Linked DNA regions of Homo sapiens: all the other regions are reported to be linked to region 2. The links are microRNA targets in miRTarBase. Many come from high-throughput screens and were not tested one by one. Region 2 holds a microRNA gene; each other region holds the end of a gene's coding sequence.

What was found. Region 2 holds the annotated microRNA hsa-miR-6831-5p (UAGGUAGAGUGUGAGGAGGAGGUC, at 1,408-1,431, shown strand). A microRNA usually pairs through its seed, bases 2 to 8, with sites in the 3' UTR of a target mRNA and lowers its output. Matches are read on the target gene's strand: a 7mer-m8 pairs with bases 2 to 8, a 7mer-A1 pairs with bases 2 to 7 and ends in A, and an 8mer does both.
Region 1: the mRNA of NCKIPSD is a reported target of hsa-miR-6831-5p. The part of its 3' UTR that is shown has no 7-base or 8-base seed match.
Region 3: miRTarBase lists NOA1 as a target of hsa-miR-6831-5p. The part of its 3' UTR that is shown has no 7-base or 8-base seed match.
Region 4: the mRNA of PEX11B is a reported target of hsa-miR-6831-5p. Seed matches in the 3' UTR shown: 7mer-m8 at 2,017-2,023.
Region 5: the mRNA of PRSS22 is a reported target of hsa-miR-6831-5p. Seed matches in the 3' UTR shown: 7mer-m8 at 362-368 and 7mer-m8 at 368-374.
Region 6: the mRNA of RAD18 is a reported target of hsa-miR-6831-5p. Seed matches in the 3' UTR shown: 7mer-m8 at 566-572 and 7mer-m8 at 324-330.
Region 7: the mRNA of EDN1 is a reported target of hsa-miR-6831-5p. Seed matches in the 3' UTR shown: 7mer-m8 at 1,061-1,067.

What each region holds. Positions count from the first base shown.
Region 1 is chr3:48,671,996-48,675,089 of GRCh38, forward strand. NCKIPSD (NCK interacting protein with SH3 domain) reads right to left here. Exons shown (of 13, transcript NM_016453.4): 13 at 1,849-2,752. The coding sequence ends at 2,549. Among named protein-coding and RNA genes, the nearest start is that of LINC02585, 9.8 kb to the left of the region's middle.
Region 2 is chr5:140,562,082-140,565,157 of GRCh38, reverse strand. MIR6831 (microRNA 6831) reads left to right here and starts at 1,407; the gene lies at 1,407-1,487. It overlaps APBB3 (amyloid beta precursor protein binding family B member 3), which reads left to right and starts at 560. Exons shown (of 13, transcript NM_133173.3): 1 at 560-961; 2 at 1,243-1,406; 3 at 1,488-1,564; 4 at 2,435-2,495; 5 at 2,659-2,805; 6 at 2,931-3,058. The coding sequence starts at 913. It overlaps SLC35A4 (solute carrier family 35 member A4), which reads right to left and starts at 330. Exons shown (of 3, transcript NM_080670.4): 1 at 300-330. It overlaps LOC131768270 (SLC35A4 upstream open reading frame protein), which reads right to left and starts at 330. Exons shown (of 3, transcript NM_001394034.2): 1 at 300-330. The coding sequence starts at 314. RefSeq lists enhancers at 253-372, 128-734, 1,343-1,402 and a silencer at 693-872.
Region 3 is chr4:56,960,998-56,964,091 of GRCh38, reverse strand. NOA1 (nitric oxide associated 1) reads left to right here. Exons shown (of 7, transcript NM_032313.4): 7 at 431-742. The coding sequence ends at 642. Among named protein-coding and RNA genes, the nearest start is that of NOA1, 15 kb to the left of the region's middle.
Region 4 is chr1:145,909,586-145,912,585 of GRCh38, forward strand. It overlaps PEX11B (peroxisomal biogenesis factor 11 beta), which reads right to left. Exons shown (of 4, transcript NM_003846.3): 4 at 1,765-2,981. The coding sequence ends at 2,576. It overlaps ITGA10 (integrin subunit alpha 10), which reads right to left and starts at 465. Exons shown (of 30, transcript NM_003637.5): 1 at 378-465. The coding sequence starts at 429.
Region 5 is chr16:2,850,256-2,853,349 of GRCh38, reverse strand. PRSS22 (serine protease 22) reads left to right here. Exons shown (of 6, transcript NM_022119.4): 6 at 21-620. The coding sequence ends at 257. Among named protein-coding and RNA genes, the nearest start is that of PRSS22, 6.4 kb to the left of the region's middle. RefSeq lists an enhancer at 625-1,124.
Region 6 is chr3:8,878,533-8,881,626 of GRCh38, forward strand. It overlaps RAD18 (RAD18 E3 ubiquitin protein ligase), which reads right to left. Exons shown (of 13, transcript NM_020165.4): 13 at 1-2,927. The coding sequence ends at 2,825. Among named protein-coding and RNA genes, the nearest start is that of RAD18, 83 kb to the right of the region's middle.
Region 7 is chr6:12,295,578-12,298,671 of GRCh38, forward strand. It overlaps EDN1 (endothelin 1), which reads left to right. Exons shown (of 5, transcript NM_001955.5): 5 at 385-1,617. The coding sequence ends at 490. Among named protein-coding and RNA genes, the nearest start is that of EDN1, 6.8 kb to the left of the region's middle.

The DNA of each region.
Region 1 (3,094 bases), not on the chromosome of region 2:
GATTCCATCTGAAAAAAAAAAAAAAAAAAAAAAGCGGGGGCTGGGCGCGGTGGCTCACACCTGTAATCCCAGCACTTTGGGAGCCTGAGACAGGTGGATCGTCTGAGATCAGGAGTTCGAGACCAGCCTGACCAACATGGTGAAACCCCGTCTCTACTAAAAATACAAAAATTAGCTGGATGTGGTGGTGGGCACCTGTAATCCCAGCTATTCGGGAAGCTGAGGCAGAGGAATCATCGCTTGAACCTGGGAGGTAGAGGTTGCAGTGAGCCGAGATCACACCATTGCATTCCAGCCTGGGTGACAAGAGCAAAACTCCGTCTCAAAAAGAAAAAAAAAAAAAGTTAGTAACCAGGTTGTGTCCCACAGAGCTTTACTGGGGGCCAAACACTGTCAACCCCTCCTCAGGTCCCAGTGAGTTTGTGCACCTGGCCTTCTGACAGTAAGCGGTGAGCAGGGCATCCCCCACCAGGACCCCATACTTTCCTCCCATGGGTTTCCTATGGAATGTTGCTGCTTCAACTTCTGAGAGCCTCTTGCTGGGGGGCCCCATCCCTAGCCCTTGCCTCCCTGTGCTGCTTTACCTTCTTTTTGGGAGGATAACTGCCCTCTGTTTTCAGCACCCCAATAAGAAAGAAAAAGTCATGACCAGAAGTCAGTGTCAGTGATTGCTGATGTGTGGAAACATCTGATGAATGAAGAGTTTGGGTAAAAAATAAAGGGAACTGATGAAAACCACTTGTGTGTGAAGCCTATATAGTGGTGTGTGCCTGTAGTCCCAGCTACTCGGGAAGCTGAAGTGGGAGGACTGCTTGAGCACAGGAGTTGGACATCAGCCTTGAAAAGATAGTGAGACTCAATCTAGAAAACAGAAACAACACTTCTGACTGGTGTCTGCCTGTGGGTTTCTGACTCTGCTCCCAAACTTATGGTGAGAACTTCTTTGCTAACTTGAGAGTCTGCAAGAGTGAAGTTTTTGCCAAATTTTGGCCCTTAGTTCCTCTAAAACACTAATGGAAACGTAACCCCATGCTTGTTAAGACCCTCCTTCTGCCCTACCATGATTACCAGATCTCTGCTGAGGTTGCAAGATGAGGTGATCTTGCTGGAAACAAGGACAAATGGGGGAAGAAAATAGGGCTGGACAGGCCCAAGCATTCAGAGGCCAGGGCTGGGGGTAGGTAGGGGCCTGCTTCATTTGAGAACAACTATGAAGGACAATAGGGTTTCAACAGGGGAGAGAGTAGCGGTATTCAAAGCAAAGCAAAAGATGTAAGTGAAAGATGTAAGCGGGCCGGTGCGATGGGTCACGCCTATAATCCCCGTACTTTGGGAGGCCAAGGCAGGAGGATCACCGGAACTGAGGTGTTTGAGACCTGCTTGAGCAACATAGTAGGACCCTGTCTCTACCAAAAAAAAAAAAAAAAATTAAATTAGCTGGGCATGGTGGCTACTGTAGTTTCAGCTACTCAGGAGGCTGAGGCAGGAGGATCACTTGAGCCTGGGAGGTCAAGGCTACAGTGAGCCTGGGTAACAGAGTGAGACTGTCTCAAAAAAAAAAAAAAGGAGAAAAAGAAAGATGTAAGTGTGTAAGTGAAGCCTGGAGATGCAGACACCTGCGAATGGGCTGCTGAGGGGCACTTGGCTATGGCTGGGGCTCAGGAAAAGTGGAGCTCAGGGAAGAGAGGCTAGAACAGGGCTCAAAGGGCCTTGAAGGCCAGGCCTGTCAGGGTCCATCACCTCCTCAGGCTGGAGAAGTCAGTGCAAGCTGCAGTGATGGGGTCCTGAGGCCCCAGTACTTCTGCCCATCCTCTCCCACTGTCTCCCAAGATCATACAGGGAAGCCTGTTTCCAGATGCCTGTGATTTATTTCCAAAGGAGAGCTACAGCACATAGGAAAATACACATGGCTTTTCAGTCTACATTTTTACAGAGAAAAGAGATTCGGTCATTGGCTTTCTCAGTGCCATCATCCTGTTCCATGAGGCTCCAGGATGGATGGCCTGTCTCCAAGATCCCGCTTTCAAAGCAGCAGCTTGGCCAAGGCCTCTGGGGGTAGGAGTGAAGGGCAGCGACCCCCATGTGCGGGTGGAGGGGAGGACATGAGCAGCACTCACTGCAAAGCTAAGGCAAAGAATAGAGCTGGTGGGAGATGCCTCCCCTCACCCCAGGGGCATGGCTTGCTGAGGCCCAGGATACAGACCAGGAGGGGTGGGGATGGGGGTCTGGTCCAGCCTGGAGCGGCAGCAGGACTCTGAGTGTACACATGGGTGTGGGGTGAAGAGGGGGGCATGCTGAAGAGGAAGCCTACCAGGGTATAGAGGGGCTTTAGCTTGCATATTCCCCCTGCCCCAGAACAGCTCCCAGACCATGGTCCCCAATCCTACACTTGGCCCCTCTCTTAAGTTCTACTTCAGGTGGGGGTCCTGCTCAGGTTCCTTCTGCCACCTTATCCCCTCCCACTGTCAGTGCAAAACATTCTTAGGGCCAAGCCCCTGAGTCCCCTGCACACTGACTGGAGCTGCAGGGAAGGGAGGACAGCAAGGTGCTAGCTGGGAGCCTCCCCCAGCACCAGGAATTCCTTGCACATCTCTCGGACAATCATGCGGTCCATCTGGCACTGGGGTGAGGTCTCCTCCTCATTCAGGATGCGTCGCAGTATGGCCTGCAGGTCGGGTAGCCGGTGGCGGTGCTGCAGGTAGGGTGTGGTGCGGACTATAGCATGCATCAGGGAGAGGTACTCCATGCGCAGCTGTGGGAAGAGCAGGCCAGCTCAGGGACCCCAGGGAGGTACTGCAACCACCACTGGACAGGGACAGGACCCCACTGTCCCACAGACCCCAGGGCTGTGGACCTGAACATCAGGGCTGCATCCCCAGCACCCACAATATACCTGGCACAGAATTGGTCTTCAATAGTTTTTGAGTAAGCGAATAAACGAATCATCCCAGCCACAGACAGCCCCAAGTATGTGGCCTGCCCAGGGAAGTCCTGCCCATCCTTTGAAGCTGGGTCTCTCAAGGTGCCTCTGTCTATCAGTCAGAGGCCCTCTGCTTCTCACCCTATCCTCTCTTACCCTGGAAGACCTCGTGCA
Region 2 (3,076 bases):
GAGCTAGGGAATGGGGTAAAGTGAGGAGTGTTTAAGGGTGAATGTTTTTGAGTCTGTGCTAGTAACGGGTTCGTGATGGTTCCCAGGAGGGGACATCTGGGGGATCCACGGCTCCTCCCGCCTCGCCGAATGCTCTCCCCACACCACTCCACACTGTTGAGGCAGTTGACAGGAGCCGCAGAAGAAACAAGGGACATCCTCACTCCTGAGCCGCTCCAGAGTCGCTTCTCCCCGGAACTAAAAAGGTCAAGGAGAGTGAAGACCACGCCCGGCTGCAGATCACCCCCACGGCCACTCACCTTGTCATCCGCCATCTTCCCCGCCGAACTTGTTGCGCAGGCGCATCCCCGCCTCCCTCGTGCCGACTGCCCCGGCCATCTTTACGGAGGGCGAAGGCACTTCCGGAGCATTTTTGGAAAGGGGGAGGTGCTTTCCTAGTGGCCAAGTACGCCTCTCTCAGATACTTCCACGTGACCCCCTCCCGTCGAGTCTCAGGCTGCGTGTGAGCGCACTCACGACCGGGGCGCGATGATCTCACTCGTGCGCGAGTGCGCGCGGCGCATGTTCGGCGTGTCGGTCTTCAGGCGCCTGATGAGTTCATAGTTGGGCGGTGGTGTCAGCGGTTTCGCTGGCGTTCGTGGGCCTCCCCCGGACCCACACACGGAAACACGCAACCATTCGGGGATCCAGACGCCCGTTTACACGCACCACCCCTGGGCGGGCTGTGCGGCTCAGGCCCTCCCCCGGGACCGGCCCGTGTCCCGCCCCGTGTCCCGCCCCGTATTTGTGCGGCGCCAGCTGGCCCCGCAGCCTGCGGCGCAGAGAGGCTGGGCTTGCAGGCGCAGTAGCTCCAGAGGTCGCGCTGGGCTGAGAGTGCGGGCCGGCAGAGGCTGGCGGGGAGCAGCCGGGGTTATGCTGGGCAAGGATTACATGCTGGCCATCATTCTGGTCAACTGCGATGGTGTGCACGGAGGGGCCCGGTGGGAAGACCAGGAGCTGAGGGAGGACGAGGGAATCCGAAAGGCTACTCTGGGGCTCAAAGACGGTGGGGGATACCTCTCTGTGTAGGGACCAGGGGGCGAATGAACCCGGTCTTTACATGTGATGTCTTCAAGATTGAGGAGCCTGGATCTTCAGCCTAAGAACTGACCCATTTTGGGGATGGAGAGGGGATTATGACAGCATGTTATTCTGAACTCACAAATCATATGCTCCCTCCTCTCTAATCCGGTGTTCCTGTAGATGACTTGTGGGGGGACCACAGTCTGGAGGTGGAGGCTGGCCTGCCTCCTGGCTGGAGGAAGATCCACGATGCTGCAGGTACTTACTACTGGCATGTACCCAGCGGTAGCACCCAGTGGCAGCGCCCAACCTGGGAACTAGGAGATGCAGAGGACCCAGGCACGGTAGGTAGAGTGTGAGGAGGAGGTCTGAGCCCATGTGTGGACCTAGGTCTGCTGTTAAACTGACTAACTCCCACTCTACAGGGAACGGAGGGGATCTGGGGACTGCGGCCCCCCAAAGGGAGATCCTTCTCCAGCCTGGAGAGTTCACTGGACCGGAGGTAACGGGTGGCCCAGGCAAAATGAAAGGCTTGGGGTTCCATGGTGTTCAAAAATGCAGCTGGACCCATGGTCTGCTTTCCAGCCCAGGTTCTGGATTCTGTCACATGTTTTGGGTTCTGTTACGTTCTTGGCTCTGTCCCAGGTTCTTAACTGTCAGTATTTTGAGTTTTATCCCTTGTTCTAAGCTCTTGTTTGTAGCTACATGTTTTTCATATTCTTGGTCCTAACCTATCATGTTCTAGACCTTGGCCATTAAGTCCTCTGTTCTAGGGTCTCTTGTCCCACTTTGGGGTTCTGGTCCACATATTGGACCCTGTTCTATTTTGTGACTTTTATTTTTTATTTTTTGAGATGGAGTCTCACTCTGTCATCCAGGCTGGAGTGCAGTGGCACGATCTTGGCTCACTGCAACCTCCGCCTCCCAGGTTCAAGTCATTCTCCTGCCTCAGCCTCCTGAGTAGCTGAAACTACAGGCACATGCCACCATGCCCAGCTAATGTTTGTATTTTTAGTAGATATGGGGTTTCACCATGTTGGCCAGGATGGTCTCGATATCCTGACCTCATGATCCACCCGTCTCAGCCTCCCAAAGTGTTGGGATTACAGGCGTGAGCCACCACTGCACCTAGCCTTGTGACTTTTATTCTATGTCCTGTGTCTGGGTCCTATGTCCTGAATTTTCCCTCAAATTCTGAGTCACACTTTATGTTACGTTAATATGTCCTGGGCTCTACCCTGCTCTGGTTTTATATTTCTGGTGCTATATTCTGGGTCTTGCCCCTCATCCTGTGCTTATCAAGTTGTCTAGGCCTCACCAGTGTCCCTACTGTAGGAAATGTGGTCCTCTTAACAGCTCTGCTCTGTTTCAGTAACTCTCTGTCCTGGTATGGTGGGGAATCCTACATCCAGAGCATGGAGCCAGGGGCTAAGGTAGTGACTTGGGCCTGAGGGCATTGGGAGGTCCCAAGGGAAAGACAAGGGTGGGATTGGACTGAACAGAGGTGATCAAGGGTGAAGACAGGGAGTATGTATTGTGGCACCTGCCACCCTACTCCATCCTTATTAATTCCTGTCCCTTCCCCCAACCTGTCAGTGCTTTGCAGTCCGCTCTCTGGGCTGGGTAGAGGTACCTGAAGAGGACCTGGCACCGGGGAAGAGCAGTATTGCAGTCAATAACTGTATCCAGCAGCTGGCCCAGACCCGCAGCCGGAGCCAGCCTCCAGATGGTGCCTGGGGTGAGGTGAGTTGGCTGGGCCCTTTAATGGTTTGGGCCCAGGGCCCAGCAGAGGTAGCTGTCCCTGAATTTCCTATTTCTCATGGCAATGACCTTTATCTGAGCTCTGGGCTGACCTCTGTCCTTGGCAGGGCCAGAACATGCTGATGATCCTGAAGAAGGATGCCATGAGCCTAGTGAATCCCCTGGACCACAGTCTGATCCACTGCCAGCCTCTGGTGCACATCCGTGTGTGGGGCGTGGGGAGCTCCAAGGGCCGGTGAGGATGCCTACATCC
Region 3 (3,094 bases), not on the chromosome of region 2:
CCATCTCAAAAAAAAAAAACAAAAAGTGAATAAAGCAGCCTTACCGACAATTTTTTTTATAGAAAAGTGCCTTAACTGATGAAAGCTGATTATTTTAAGGTGTACATACTAGTTTATTCATAAAATACAACCTATTCTGAAAATAAATTTGTACTTTGCACAAACGCATTGTATGCTTTTTTAAAACTAAGGTGTGTCCACCTGTGCCCCCAGCTTCTCGGGACGCCGAGGCAGTACGATCGCTTGAGCCCAGGAACTTGAGTTCAGCCTGGGTAACATAGCAAGACGCAGTTTCTTAAAAAATAATAAAATAATAAGAGAGTGAAAGAGAGTGACAGCGTTCTCTGATAGTCCATTTTCAGCTTTGGTTTGGTATTTTTAATAAGATGATTGCTAACAGCCTTTTGTGTTGTGTCACATGCCTGCATAGGTTGGGTTTCAGTAACACCTAATTTTAAGGACAGACTGCATCTCCGAGGCTATACACCTGAAGGAACAGTTTTGACCGTCCGGCCCCCTCTCTTGCCATATATTGTTAACATCAAAGGACAGCGCATCAAGAAAAGTGTGGCCTATAAAACCAAGAAGCCTCCTTCCCTTATGTACAACGTGAGGAAGAAGAAAGGAAAGATAAATGTATGAGACCGACCTTGTTCACTCCAGATATTAACTGTATTGAACACAACAAAATACATTGAATTTGTATTAAACATATAACGCATAAATAAAGCTCCCATTCTTACCCTTTTTTTCTTTTTTCTTTTTTTTTTTTTCTGAGACTGAGCCCTGCTCTGTTGCCCAGGTTGGAGTGCAGTGGCACGATCTTGGCTCACTGTAACCTCTACCTCCCAGGTTCAAGCAATCCTCCTGCCTCAGCCCCCCAGTAGCTGGGATTACAGGCATGCGCCACTATGCCCAGCTAAGTTTTGTATTTTTAGTAGAGATGGGGTTTCACCATGTTGGCCAGGCTGGTCTCGAACTCCTGACCTCAGGTGATCCATCCGCCTCAGCCTCCCAAAGTGCTGGGAATACAGGCGTGAGCCGCCGCGGCCAGCCTCACCCTTTTCAAAGCTCTTAACAGTTAACTTTTTTAAACTATTCAAGACTTATGTTCATAATGTATTCAGCTTATAAAAAGTTTTTTTTTTTGTATAGTATGTATATGGTATGTATCTGTGACCCACATATATATAAAATTGGAAGCCTGCTATATTCAAGTTTCTCCCACTACTGTTGTTTCTTTTTTTTTTTTTTTTTTTTTTTTTGAGACAGGGTCTTGCTCTGTCACCCAGGCTGAAGTACAGTGGTGCAATCTCGGCTCACTGCAAATTCCACCTCCTGGATTCAAGCAATTCTCATGCCTCAGCTTCCTGAGTAGCTAGGATAACAGGTATGCACCACCACCCCTGGCTAATTTTTGTATTTTTAGTAGAGACAAGTTCTCACCATGTTGTCCACCCACCTCGGTCTCCTAAAGTTCTGGGATTACAAGTGTGAGCCACCATGCCCCGCCTCACTACTGTTTTTTATATTGAGACCAGATGTCATTTCTCTTATTTGGAGTTAGCAGTCAGTATATGAAAAAATGGCAGGAAAATTAATTTCTCCAAAATTCATTGGCTTAAATAAGATAGAAGTGAGTAGGTGGCTCTGCTCCAAGGATCCAGCTGGTGGAACATTCCATGGCCATCTGTAGGTCTAAGGTGGCTGCCCAAGTTGTCATCCTTTTCCAGCAAGGGTAAAAAGGGGGAAAGTATGGAGAGCAAGCAACTTCCCTATTTAAAAGAAGGGAAGAAAAGCTGGATGTTGCACACATCAGTTTACATAGTCCACAGGTCAAGTCACATGGCCACACCCACCCATAAGGAAGCTGGGAAATGGAGGAGGAAATGGGAACCATTTGGGGTTTTTATTAAGGAAAAATGGGGAGAATGGATACTAGAGAACAAGTAGAAATTTACCTTACACAATTTGACAATGCCTGAAAATCTTAGATAAAAAAGGATTCAAGGCCAGATGTAGTGGCTCACACCTGTAATCCCAGCACTTTGGGAAGCCAAGGCAGGAGAATCGCTTGAGGCCAGGAGTTCAAGATCAGCCTGGTCAACATAGTGAGACCCCATCTCTATTATTTTTTTTAATAAAAATGAATTGTCGGCTGGACACAGTGGCTCAACGCCTGTAATCCCAGCACTCTGGGAGGCCAAGGCAAGTGGATCACCTGAGGTCAGGAGTTAGAGACTAGCCTGGACAACATGGTGAAACCCCATCTCTACTAAAAACACAAAAATTAGCCAGGCGTGGTGGGCACCTGTAATCCCAGCTACTCGGGAGGCTGAGGCAGGAGAATTGCACGAACCCAGGAGAAGGAAGTTGCAGTGAGCCGAGATCACACCACTGCACTCCAGCCTGGGCAACAAGAGCAAAACTTCATCCCAAAAAAACTAAATAAATAAAGATTTTTAAAAAGCTATGTATTTCTAGCAACTGAGGTCTATTCTGCAACTGAGAGGACACTTTAACCATTTTATTTACATTTCATCTTTATATGACTGAATAACATTACATCAATCAGAAGTCTTTATTGGCCAGGAGCAGTGGCTCATGCCTGTAATCCCAACATTTTGGGATGCCAAGGCAGGAGGATTGCTTGAGTTTAGGAGTTCAAGACCAGCCTGGGCAACACAGCAAGACCTCATCTCTACTAAAACCCAAAAAAATTAGCCAGGTGTGGCGCTGTGTGCCTGTAATCTCAGCTACTGGAGAGGCTGAGTCAGGAGGATCACTTGAGCCTGGGATATGGAGGCTGCAGTGAGCTATGATCACATTACTGCACTCCAGCCTGGGCAACAGAGCGAGACCCTGTCTGAAAAAAGGAAAAAAGAAAAAGTCTACACCTTTTGTTATTCCTAGCTGAGTAAGTAGTACCACAGCTGTGTCATGAAGAATTGGCAAGTCAAGTCCCAGATCCTAATGTTGAAATAAATGCTGGTAAGATAAGCTAGGCTGAAACGCAGTTAGAGCCATGAAATTCCTGAGAGGACCATGTTCTGTCCCAACATATGGGAGCCCCCATGTATTTCACACTCTCCTG
Region 4 (3,000 bases), not on the chromosome of region 2:
TACATATTATATGTATATTATATATAATATATAATTATGTTATATATTATATGTATATTATATATAATATATAATTGTTATATATTATATGTATATTATATATAATATATAATTATACATTATATATTATATAATTATTAGATACAAATCTTACACAAGGTCCTAGGCAGCTTTAGCCCCTGCCAGTCTCAATATTCAAACAGTCATATGTGAGGGCATAAAAATGCACAAGGACACAGACACACATACAAGAAATGTACAACCAGTGTTCGCTTCCTAACCTAAATCCCAAAGAATTTTAACTATAATGGTCCCAATTCCAAACAATCTATGTATCTTCCATCCCCACCAGAAACCAAGAAGTTAACTTCCCTCACCTGTCAGGAACACCAGGGGCAAGAACAGGTGAGTGACGAAGGGGAGTTCCATGCCTGATCGGTTTCTGTCCAGTATGAGAAGTCCTCTGGCCTCTGTCCCTCTCCTTTTCTGTTTTCTTCACTTTCCCTCCCATCCTGCCCCCTCCCAATGGCAGCTAAAAATAAAGTTGGAAGGAATGGGAGGAGTGATGGTGGGGAACTGTGGGGAGCCCCAGACCAAGGAAAACACTGAGCGATCTTAGTCTATTTCTCTGCCTTGGTGCTGCCCCCTGGAGGCCTCATCTCTATATCCAGAGAACATATTTTTTTGCCCATTTCTGCTATTTCTTTTTTTCTACTGTTTATTGTTGCCAGGTCAATAATGCTTTCCTCAAATTTGGAACAGGAGTGGGAGATGGATTCTTTTTTATAAGAAAAGAATCTTAAACTTTTGTTTAAAAGTTTTAGACAAATTATTTATATTGAGAATACAGACAGGGTTTCACTATGTTACCCAGGCTGGTCTTGAACTCCTGAACTCAAGGAATCCTCCCACCTCAGCCTCCCAAAGTGAGCCACTGCACCCAGCTGGGAGATAGGAGATAGATTCAGATTTTTTTTTTTCTTTTTTAAGGCAGAGTCTCACTCTGTCACCCAGGCTGGAGTGCAGTGGCACAATCTTGGCTCACTGCAACCTCTGTCTCCCACGTTCAAGCATTTCTCATGCCTCAGCCTCCCAGGTAGCTGGGACTACAGGCACATGCCACCATGCCTGGCTAATTTTTTATTTTTAGTAGAGGCAGGGTTTCACCATGTTGGCCAGGCTGGTCTTGAACTCCTGACCTTAAGAGATCCACCTGCCTCGGCCTCCCAAAGTGCTGGGATTACCGGCGTGAGCCACCACGCCTGGCCGATAGATTCACTTCCTAACCTTATTTATCTCAACCTGGAATATGGAAAATGAAAGAGCTGATAGCAGTGGTATCATTTCCCTACCCACCCAGGGGAGTCTCAACTTGTGAAGACACAGCTCCAAATCCTTACCAGCCCCACTCCACTTGGTTCTGTCCTTGGCTCTTAGCCTATGCTGTCATATGGCATTCTGCTTCTTAGAGGGATTATATCTGAACTGGTATGAGATGTGCTTTGTGGAGCCAGGACAATAACTTTAGTATTAGACCACTCCTCTGCCACCCCAACTCCTCAGCTAGGTTATAAACTTCTTAAAGTTGGGAGTGTGGAGCTTCTTAGATTTTTGGATGCCCACTAAGTATGTTGCTTTACATACTGTAGGTGCTCAAGAAAAATAATGTGGGTGATGTTAGTGGCTAATCCCGAGAAAAACCCAAACCACAGTGACAGGAATAGGGGCCTCAAATTACCAAAAAATGAGGGACCAGACCAAATGTCGATGAGCAAACTGAACTTTAATTTGCTTACCTGAAAGGCTTGCTCTTCATTATTGGCATAGGCCACAGCTATTTACACAGAATCATTGTACAGGATTTACAGCAAGATGCTACACATAGCATCATTCTGGATAAGCGACAAAGGAGTAAGAACAGACTGGGGAATAAAGCTCTGAAATCAAAGTGTAAGCAGAAATCTGAAGGTAGGTGTACAAGGAAGGATAAGGGCCAAATGATGAGCGAGGTTGGTGAGGTAGACATAAGGGAGGAAGAGGAAACATCCAACAACTTGTGGTGCAGAGATATAAGGGAAGAGTCCACTGGCACATAGTCTTAAAAATTATGTTTGGAGTTTGAAGGAGGAAAAATCTGCCATAAGCCACCTCTGTGAGAAAAAAGAAGGCAGTTAGAACCTTACAGGCCAAACCTTATACCTCCCCTATCAAAAAGTAATTCTGCTGATTAAATCCCTGGATAGGAGAATGAGAAGGTTGAAAAAAGAAAGAGAGAGATGCATAGACACAGAACCTTAAACAGAGTTAAGAGACACAAAGTAAATATATTCAAGAGAGACACAAAGAAAGAGGAAAAGAACAGAAGCTCAGGCACATCTAGAAATTAGAGACATCCTATTAACTTCACGAGTCATCTTTCCTTACCTCATCTTCCCCAAAGCTCTTCCTCCACCCCTAAATCTCTGAATTTCTAACTTTAACCAAAGAGTAGAATTCGAATGAGGCTGGCACATGGGGGACGATCTAAGATTCCATCTCACCAATTCAGGTCCCCTCCTTATCCTGTACCGGAAGGTCAGGGCTTGAGTCGTAGCCAGGGATAGATTAGGGTGAGAATAGACAGGATGGAGGACACGAGGCCACAAAGCCCCACAATCCCAGGGCCACAGCGCCAGAGGCCTAGTTTGTCCAGAGGAATGAAGAGATCACAGGCATTTCTGACCACGTCTAGCAGAAGTGGGGGATGACCTCTAAGGACTCGAGCCAGGAGCAGGACTTGCAGCCGAAGTTTCAGAGCCAGTTGGGGCAGACCTCCTCCTGGAGTCCCTGGTCCCCCAAGTCCCCCAGTTTCACTTCCTCCTGGGACTCCTCCTCCAGAACCTTTCAGTCGCCGGCTACAAGCAGAAGACTCTTGCTCCATCAGTAGGCGAATCTCATAAGCATCACGGCTCAAATTCATGATGAGGGAAAACAAATAGTACCTGATACACAGAGCAAAAG
Region 5 (3,094 bases), not on the chromosome of region 2:
ACCTCGCCTCCTCTCTGCAGGGCGACTCCGGGGGCCCCCTCATGTGCCAGGTGGACGGCGCCTGGCTGCTGGCCGGCATCATCAGCTGGGGCGAGGGCTGTGCCGAGCGCAACAGGCCCGGGGTCTACATCAGCCTCTCTGCGCACCGCTCCTGGGTGGAGAAGATCGTGCAAGGGGTGCAGCTCCGCGGGCGCGCTCAGGGGGGTGGGGCCCTCAGGGCACCGAGCCAGGGCTCTGGGGCCGCCGCGCGCTCCTAGGGCGCAGCGGGACGCGGGGCTCGGATCTGAAAGGCGGCCAGATCCACATCTGGATCTGGATCTGCGGCGGCCTCGGGCGGTTTCCCCCGCCGTAAATAGGCTCATCTACCTCTACCTCTGGGGGCCCGGACGGCTGCTGCGGAAAGGAAACCCCCTCCCCGACCCGCCCGACGGCCTCAGGCCCCGCCTCCAAGGCATCAGGCCCCGCCCAACGGCCTCATGTCCCCGCCCCCACGACTTCCGGCCCCGCCCCGGGCCCCAGCGCTTTTGTGTATATAAATGTTAATGATTTTTATAGGTATTTGTAACCCTGCCCACATATCTTATTTATTCCTCCAATTTCAATAAATTATTTATTCTCCAGTGTCTGTTTTTTCCCATGCCTGGGGACACTGGAAAGCAAGGGTCCAGAGGGGGTTAAGGTTGGGGGTTGGATGTTGGCCTAGCCAGAGACTGCGTGGTCCTGTCCACCTGGGGCTGACGCCGACCCCTGCTTCCACCTAGGGTTCAGCCTTCTGACCCCTGACCTTTGCAGCCCTGGGCCACCCTCCCTTTTATCCCTCTCCCACCAGGGCAGGGCAGCCGATGGAGAAGGGGCAGAGTCTAGAGGCCTGGAAGACCCAGCTCTGGTGCTTCAGGAAGGGGAGGAGAGGGGTTGGGACTCCGAAACTGTGCGTTGGATTCCAAAACAGGGCTGGTGAGGAGAAACCCAGCCCCATGAGAGTGAGGTGCTACCTCTCTACCCCAGGCCAAGCCCCCCCTTCTGCTCTCTCCACCACAGGCCTCAGGGGCCTCAGGATGGCAGAGCTGCGGGTGGTGGTGGAGGGAGGCGCCCAGGTGAGCCCCATCAGAGCCCCGTCTCCGTGGGCTGGCTGTTGGGTCCTCATCCCCAGGAGCCGATTTGTCGAGCGACTCACTGCCAAAGCTCTAAACTCCCCAGTTTGGAAGAAGCAGCGGACAGTGGCAGGGCAGGCCTCTGGCTCTGCGGGCATCAGGGGTTGAGTCACCCCACCTGTCCCCATGGGGGGTGGCAGTTTGATCCCAAGCCGAGAGGAGGGGTCTGTCTGGCTTCCTGCCTGCTTAGGGATGCAGGCTAATACTCTGTTTCCCCACATCCACTCATCTGCAGCCGGCTCTGGCCTCCTGGACCCAGGGCCCTCATCCCAGCCTGCCTGGATGCAGGCCTTCCCCAGCATCCCTGTAACAAATAGGTATGTGGTTAGAGGGCTGTGCCGCTGGCTTTGGTGAGAATATGACCCTCTTAGTAGCCGATACAGAAGAGATTCACCCAAAGCCAGGTCAAGAAAACAACCAGGTCCAATTGTGCTGAAGAAGAGACACTATGACTCTGCCATGAAATATCTCCAACCAGAAATGATCAAGGGCATGGCCAAGTTTGGAGAAGGCAATACAGGTTTAGTTTTTTGGGTTTTTTTTTTTTTGGTGTCCTTTGTTGTAAGTGCAGTTCTAAAATATTTGTTCATACTGTTTTGATTGCCTTATTTATTTATTTACTTTTTTCAAGGTAGGGCTTGCTTTGTTGCCCAGGCTGGAGTGCAGTGGTGTGACCCTGGCTCACTGCAGCCTCTACCTCCCAGTCTCAAGTGATCCTCCCACCTCAGCCTCCCGAGTAGCTGGACTGCAGACGTGTGCCACCATGCCTGGCTAATTTTTAAATTTTTTACAGACGGGGTTTCACCATGTTGCCCAAGCTGGTCTCCAACTCCTGGCCTCAAGCAATCCACCTGCCTTGGCCTCCCAAAGTGCTGAGCTTACAGGTGTGAGTCACTGGCCCAGCCTGATCACTTTTATATGATTATCAGATCACAGTAAATGCTATGGGGTTGTTTTTTTTGTTTTTGTTTTTGTTTTGTTTTTTTTTTGAGATGGAGTCTCGCTCTGTCACCCAGGCTGGAGTGCAGTGGCGCGATCTCGGCTCACTGCAACCTCCATCTCCTGGGTTCAAGCGATTCTCCTGCTTCAGCCTCCCGAGTAGCTGGGACTACAGGTGCCCGCCACCACTCCCGGCTAATTTCTTTTTGTATTTTTAGTAGAGATGGGCTTTCAGTGTGTTAGACAGGATGGTCTCAATCTCCTGACCTCGTGATCCACCCGCCTCAGCCTCTCAAAGTGCTGGGATTACAGGCGTGAGCCACCGCACCTGGCCTAGGGTTGTTTTTATTAAAACAACCAACCAACCAACCAGAACTGCCCTGCTGTTTGTCAGAGTGACCAGCCCAGGGAGTGCTGGGGTGACTCAGGTGTGCCAGGTAGCAGAGCCAACCGCCACGGCCTCTCCCTTTGTGACCTGGTCCCCTCTTGATGTCACCCTATGCTCTGGCTTCTCTTATCTCCTCTGTGGGCTTTAGCCCCTCCCCTCTCCAGCCCTCCTTTGCTGGCCTCTCTCCCTCACTCGGTTTCCCCCTCTGCCCCTGCTCCTCGACTGCCCCCTTCTGTCTCTGAGTGCCCCCTCCCTCATTTCTCTACCTCCCTCCCCTGCTCCTGTCCTGGAGTCTCTCCCTTCAGTGTCTCCTTCTGCCCTGTCAGCTCTGCCCCACTGCTCTGTGCCGCCAGGCCAGCCCTCTCCTGCCCCTCGTCTTCCTCTTTTTCCTCTCCTCTCCCTGCTCCTGTCCTGTTTCTCCTCCTTGTCAACTCTCGTTCTCCGACCCTCAGTTTTGTGGGTGCCTGTCCCTTTACCCCATCCCTCCACAGGCCCTGGTGCATGTGCATCTACTCCCTCTAATAGGGTCCTGACAGAAGCCCCTGAGAATGTAGCGCCTAGAGGGGGGCGGAGAAACCACCCTGTAAGTGGCAGGATTCACCAGGGAGGGTGGGGA
Region 6 (3,094 bases), not on the chromosome of region 2:
TTCCAGAAACAGTTCTAGCCTTCTCTATGTTGTCTATCCCTGTTGACACATCAGTCTTTACCATGTAATTTTGTTTTTAAAGGCATACCTCCCTCTATTATATACATGGTCTTATGTGTATGAATTCTTTTTTCAACTAGACCAGTAATCCTCAACATGAGGTCGAAAAAGAAAGACGAGAGTAGAGGATGAAAGGACGGCCTGGCATACTAGGCCATCTAAAGTGCATCCAGCAGCTCACCTGCACCCCCACAAACCATAAGCATCACTGCCATTCTGAGCTGATGTTGATGGGAGATGTTATAACTTTGAGGGGAGTGAGGAGGTAGAAAGAGTTAATAACTCTGAATTACTGTAAGTTTGGTGAGAAACTGTATTTTCACTAAAAGGTGAATTTTAGAACCAGAAGTTTATCAGTTTCAATTTTGGATCTATTACTTACTCTAAGTTCCTTAATCTTTGTCAGATGGATATGAACATACATTTCTTTCAATGTATGAATATTAAACATATGCTAAGTGCTAACAGATAGTGCTCAATAAATGCTCTTTAGACCTTACTTTTCAGGTAGACTTGGGAGTTCCTTTACATTACAGGTTTCTCAGTCTTGGCACAACTGACATGTTAGACTGGATAATTCTTTACTGTGGAGTGTTGTAGTCTAAAGCGTGCCCCTTAACCCCTACCACTAAATATGTTGGAAGTCTTAACTGCCGGTATCTCAGAATGTGACAGTATTTAGAGATAGGGCCCTCTATCTAAAAAAGAGGTAACTGAAGTAAAATGAGGCCATACGCATGGGCCCTGATCCAATGACTGCTGTCCCTACAAGAAATCGGGACACCAGTCCTGCACAGTCATGTGCACACAGAGAAAAGACCATGCAAGGACACCATGAGTGGAAGCCAAGGAGAGAGGCCGAAGAAGAAACCCTACTGATCTTGGACTTCCAGCCTCCAGAATTCTGAGAATACACATTTCTGTTGTGTAAGCTTCCCCGTCTGCAGTATCTTGTGACGGCAGCCCTGGCAAACTAATCCATGAGGGTTGGGTGTTTAGCCTCATCCCTGGCCTCCACCCATTGATACTGGTAGTACCCCTCACCACCCTCCACCTCCAAAAGTGTCTCCACACATTGCCAGCTGTCTCCTGGGGGGCAAAATCTTTCTGCCCACCCCACTGGGAACCATTGTTCTAGATGATCTTTGGCCACCTTTGTATTCCCAGTGTCAGCACAGTGACAGACATAGATAACCAAATATTTGCTGAATGAACTCATGTGCCTACTTTCCCAATCTTGGGTCTCACCGCTCCCTCACAAACTCCTTTTGCTGCAATTAAAGTAATAATTACTTCCAGTTTAATTTATAGACTATATAATTTGTCATGAAACAAACAGTTTTCATTTTGACATAATTTCTGACAACTCAGTGACATAAATATATCCATGTGAGCTCCTATTTTGTTTGACATGCTCACTTACCTCACATCAGTTCTGCCGATAGATTTGGTAAGTGGTGCTTTTAGTTTCCTTAATGCACCCCTCAGGATTTCATGCAAATGAAATTATTATGACAAATTTTTCTATAGCCATTTCTAACACAGGGAACTCATAAAGAAATCAAATGTCTGCACTTCACTGTGAAAACACTAAACTCTCAGCCATAATGAGACTCCACACATTATCAGAAACCCCAAGGCATACCAAAAAGACAAGGTCAACGGAGACAGTCTTTGGAAGGGGAGGTCATAAATGTTGAATCTGGCAAATCATAAATTTCTTGTCTTAACATTGCCGCATTTACTATCATCTCATTTGAAAGCTGATGTGTTTGGGTTGGGTGATGGCAGAGGGGTGGGAGTTGGGGGATGCTGGCTCTGAAATGCCAGAGAGGCATTAAGAACTCTGGAAGCATCTGGCTACTGGTAGACATTTTACACAGATAGCAATTTCTGACCAATCCATTTCAATGATTTCTAACCCATACTCAACTATCCAGAGGATACTGTTTTAAGAACATTATTGTAAACTGATACTCTCTATTCATTTACAAAATTCATTCATTGCATACTTTTTGTTTAATAGCTTGGATTCAGTGTTACAGATTTGATTGACCCAAGTGAAAAAATACTGACACTAATCATTTTTAAGTGCTATTTCAGAAGAATATGCGCAATGTTTCTAAGTTATTGTGACTTTGTGACTGTCGTAGCTTTAAATTATAATACTAATATCCTACTCTGAGAAATGTGTAAGACACAGGTCTAACAAACAACTACATTAACCTCGGGCAACAACCATCATGGAGCTGCTGTAACACAGGCATGGTGGTGGCGTGCATCGGTACTTACACACACCAAGGATGTGAACTGACATCCCGCCTTTCCAAAAACAAACATTTAACTCAACTGTTTCTTGCAATAAAGAAGTTGAAAGAATCCTTTTGTGAGGCTGGATTCTCCATGGAAGAGAAGGAGAATGGCCTAAGGACATTCTGAAATTTAATTATCAAACCAAACCAAACCAAACCAAATCCCTGTGCCAAAGTGCCAAAGAGTCTACCTCCTCTGCAAAGCTGGTACCTGTGTGAAATGTCAGTATTTTTAGAGAGAGATGTTTTAGAGGCAGGAGGCAACTGACCAAGTAAGGATATTTTGTAACATTTTTCCCCTCTGGAAAAGCAGAAAAGAATGAATATCAGCTAACCGTAATATTTAGAATTTAGCATCTTTCCTTGGGCATTTATAAATAGAAAATCTATCTGTGGCAACCAAAAGTACGGTATTCTAATCAATGCATTTGAAAAGTCAGCAAAAGCCCACATTAATTCCTATTACGCTTGTTTCTTGGTTCAATCTCAGCACTTTCAGCGGCTCTTGTGCGGCGATTCTGTCTTGGACTTATTTCTGTGTCTTGAAGATCGTTTCTGAAGACAGAAAAAGGAAATGACATCTTGGAAAGTAATGATTATTGTACAGCAGTTTCTAGTTTACAAGTGTTTTCACACATATTATTTCATTAAAACCTCGAAATAATCCTCTATTCTGTTGATGAATTCATAATTGTTATTATTAGTATTTCCACTTTATGAAT
Region 7 (3,094 bases), not on the chromosome of region 2:
ACCGTCAATTTATTAAGATGGCCATAACTATTCAAAACCTATGCTGAGTTCCTCAAGGCAGGGTCACATAGTGATGAAGGTTGGGATGGGGCTACGGAAGAAACCAGAACAACTCTAGTTTATTTAAAACCTGTATTTACTGCCCACTTCCCCTTAGACTTGACCATATGACCCCTCGCTCCCATTCTAAGCATAGGGGCAGGCTTTATTTTTACAATGGTAATAGATATCACTTGAGGTTTTATCAAAGAGTTGCGGCGGGTGGTGAAAGTTCACAACCAGATTCAGGTTTTGTTTGTGCCAGATTCTAATTTTACATGTTTCTTTTGCCAAAGGGTGATTTTTTTAAAATAACATTTGTTTTCTCTTATCTTGCTTTATTAGGTCGGAGACCATGAGAAACAGCGTCAAATCATCTTTTCATGATCCCAAGCTGAAAGGCAAGCCCTCCAGAGAGCGTTATGTGACCCACAACCGAGCACATTGGTGACAGACCTTCGGGGCCTGTCTGAAGCCATAGCCTCCACGGAGAGCCCTGTGGCCGACTCTGCACTCTCCACCCTGGCTGGGATCAGAGCAGGAGCATCCTCTGCTGGTTCCTGACTGGCAAAGGACCAGCGTCCTCGTTCAAAACATTCCAAGAAAGGTTAAGGAGTTCCCCCAACCATCTTCACTGGCTTCCATCAGTGGTAACTGCTTTGGTCTCTTCTTTCATCTGGGGATGACAATGGACCTCTCAGCAGAAACACACAGTCACATTCGAATTCGGGTGGCATCCTCCGGAGAGAGAGAGAGGAAGGAGATTCCACACAGGGGTGGAGTTTCTGACGAAGGTCCTAAGGGAGTGTTTGTGTCTGACTCAGGCGCCTGGCACATTTCAGGGAGAAACTCCAAAGTCCACACAAAGATTTTCTAAGGAATGCACAAATTGAAAACACACTCAAAAGACAAACATGCAAGTAAAGAAAAAAAAAAGAAAGACTTTTGTTTAAATTTGTAAAATGCAAAACTGAATGAAACTGTTACTACCATAAATCAGGATATGTTTCATGAATATGAGTCTACCTCACCTATATTGCACTCTGGCAGAAGTATTTCCCACATTTAATTATTGCCTCCCCAAACTCTTCCCACCCCTGCTGCCCCTTCCTCCATCCCCCATACTAAATCCTAGCCTCGTAGAAGTCTGGTCTAATGTGTCAGCAGTAGATATAATATTTTCATGGTAATCTACTAGCTCTGATCCATAAGAAAAAAAAGATCATTAAATCAGGAGATTCCCTGTCCTTGATTTTTGGAGACACAATGGTATAGGGTTGTTTATGAAATATATTGAAAAGTAAGTGTTTGTTACGCTTTAAAGCAGTAAAATTATTTTCCTTTATATAACCGGCTAATGAAAGAGGTTGGATTGAATTTTGATGTACTTATTTTTTTATAGATATTTATATTCAAACAATTTATTCCTTATATTTACCATGTTAAATATCTGTTTGGGCAGGCCATATTGGTCTATGTATTTTTAAAATATGTATTTCTAAATGAAATTGAGAACATGCTTTGTTTTGCCTGTCAAGGTAATGACTTTAGAAAATAAATATTTTTTTCCTTACTGTACTGATTTGGAATCATTACTGAAATTTGTAAGGAGTGGGCCAACGTGATTAAGTACCATAAAGGCAAATAAATGGTTAAAGACGGTTTCATAGAAAAGTGACAATTAGAAGGATATTACGGTCTAAGCTAATTATATAAAGAATTTTATCTGTATCTTAAATGTTGATTTTATACTGCATTGAGGTAAAAACACAAAACAAAAAAGCAGCTTTAACACCTCTGTCTTCTCTTGGGTAGCAGCCTCCTGCTTCTCCTTCACCTGAAAAATTCTCCAGGGACTTCATCCATTAACTTGGCTCAGGCTATTAGGCAGGATTCAACAGTTTAAGCTGATGGTGTGGTGAGAGATGCTTTATCCATATTAATGGACTGAAGGAAGTAATGGCAAGACAACCCCCCAAAACATACCTAATTATACAAAGTTATATACCAAAGTTGCTTTTAGAAAATGGCCTGCTCAGAGCAAGTAGAGGTTTCCAATGGCTTTTTATTTTCTCACATTAAGGATGTTGTTTCTTAAGGAACATTGAGTACCATTGCTTCTTCGTGATAGCCTAGGACTGGCCGTGTGCCCATGGAGGTAGAGACACCAGGTACTGATTCTAGGTCCTCTGCCACAAAGCACCACTTCCTCTCCACTTTGCCTTGGCTGGCCTTGTCAGCTCACTGGAGAGCACAGTATTGCAATTGCAGTATTGCAAATGGTCACTACTAACTGAATTCTCTAAGAGCTTGATTAGCCCTCGAGAATCTTCCTTGCCCTTCTCTAATAGTGTCTGAAGGAATTCCTGGCATTTAACAAATATTAGCATGTAGTGATCACTGTCGTCCTAACAGTGACACATCAGAAGGATTTCAAATAACAGTCTTCAGGCATGCGTAATCAATGTCCTGTGCAGAGTCTCCGTCCTCATTGATCCTCATTTTTCTCTTTAAGGCACAGTCCAATGTCTTTGGGGAATTGTTTATAAAGCTTACTTTATCCATAAACTGTTTCTCAGTGCGTGACTCTGAAGAAAATTTTGAAGTTTTGCCCATGTTGACAAGGTGCTTGGTCTGAACTTGGCCAGTATTTAATCTTGAGCAAACGATTCAATTTCCTTCTATCGTGAGTTTTCTCATCTATGAAACAAGGGAGTTGAGGGGAGTTTCTTTCATACCTCTGAGAAAGAGTTTGAGATTACATAAAGAAGTTGAAGTGGCATGAAAAAAAATAAAGATCTGAGCTTAGAAGACATGGATCTAATACATTTAAGAGGAAGTCAGAATCAGAGAAGCCACTGAACAAAACAGTCCAAAGGACAGCATAGTAAGTCAGATTGATGAGTTTTGGTTGGGTTTTTCATCAGTCAAACCCTTGAGCCCCCCTTTCCCATGCTTCCTGCTTCAGTATCCAGTAGGAAAAATGAAAGGGATGATGTAGACACTCTAGGGCATGAGGATTTGCAGTAAATAAGTTGGGAGACTCACAGAAAAT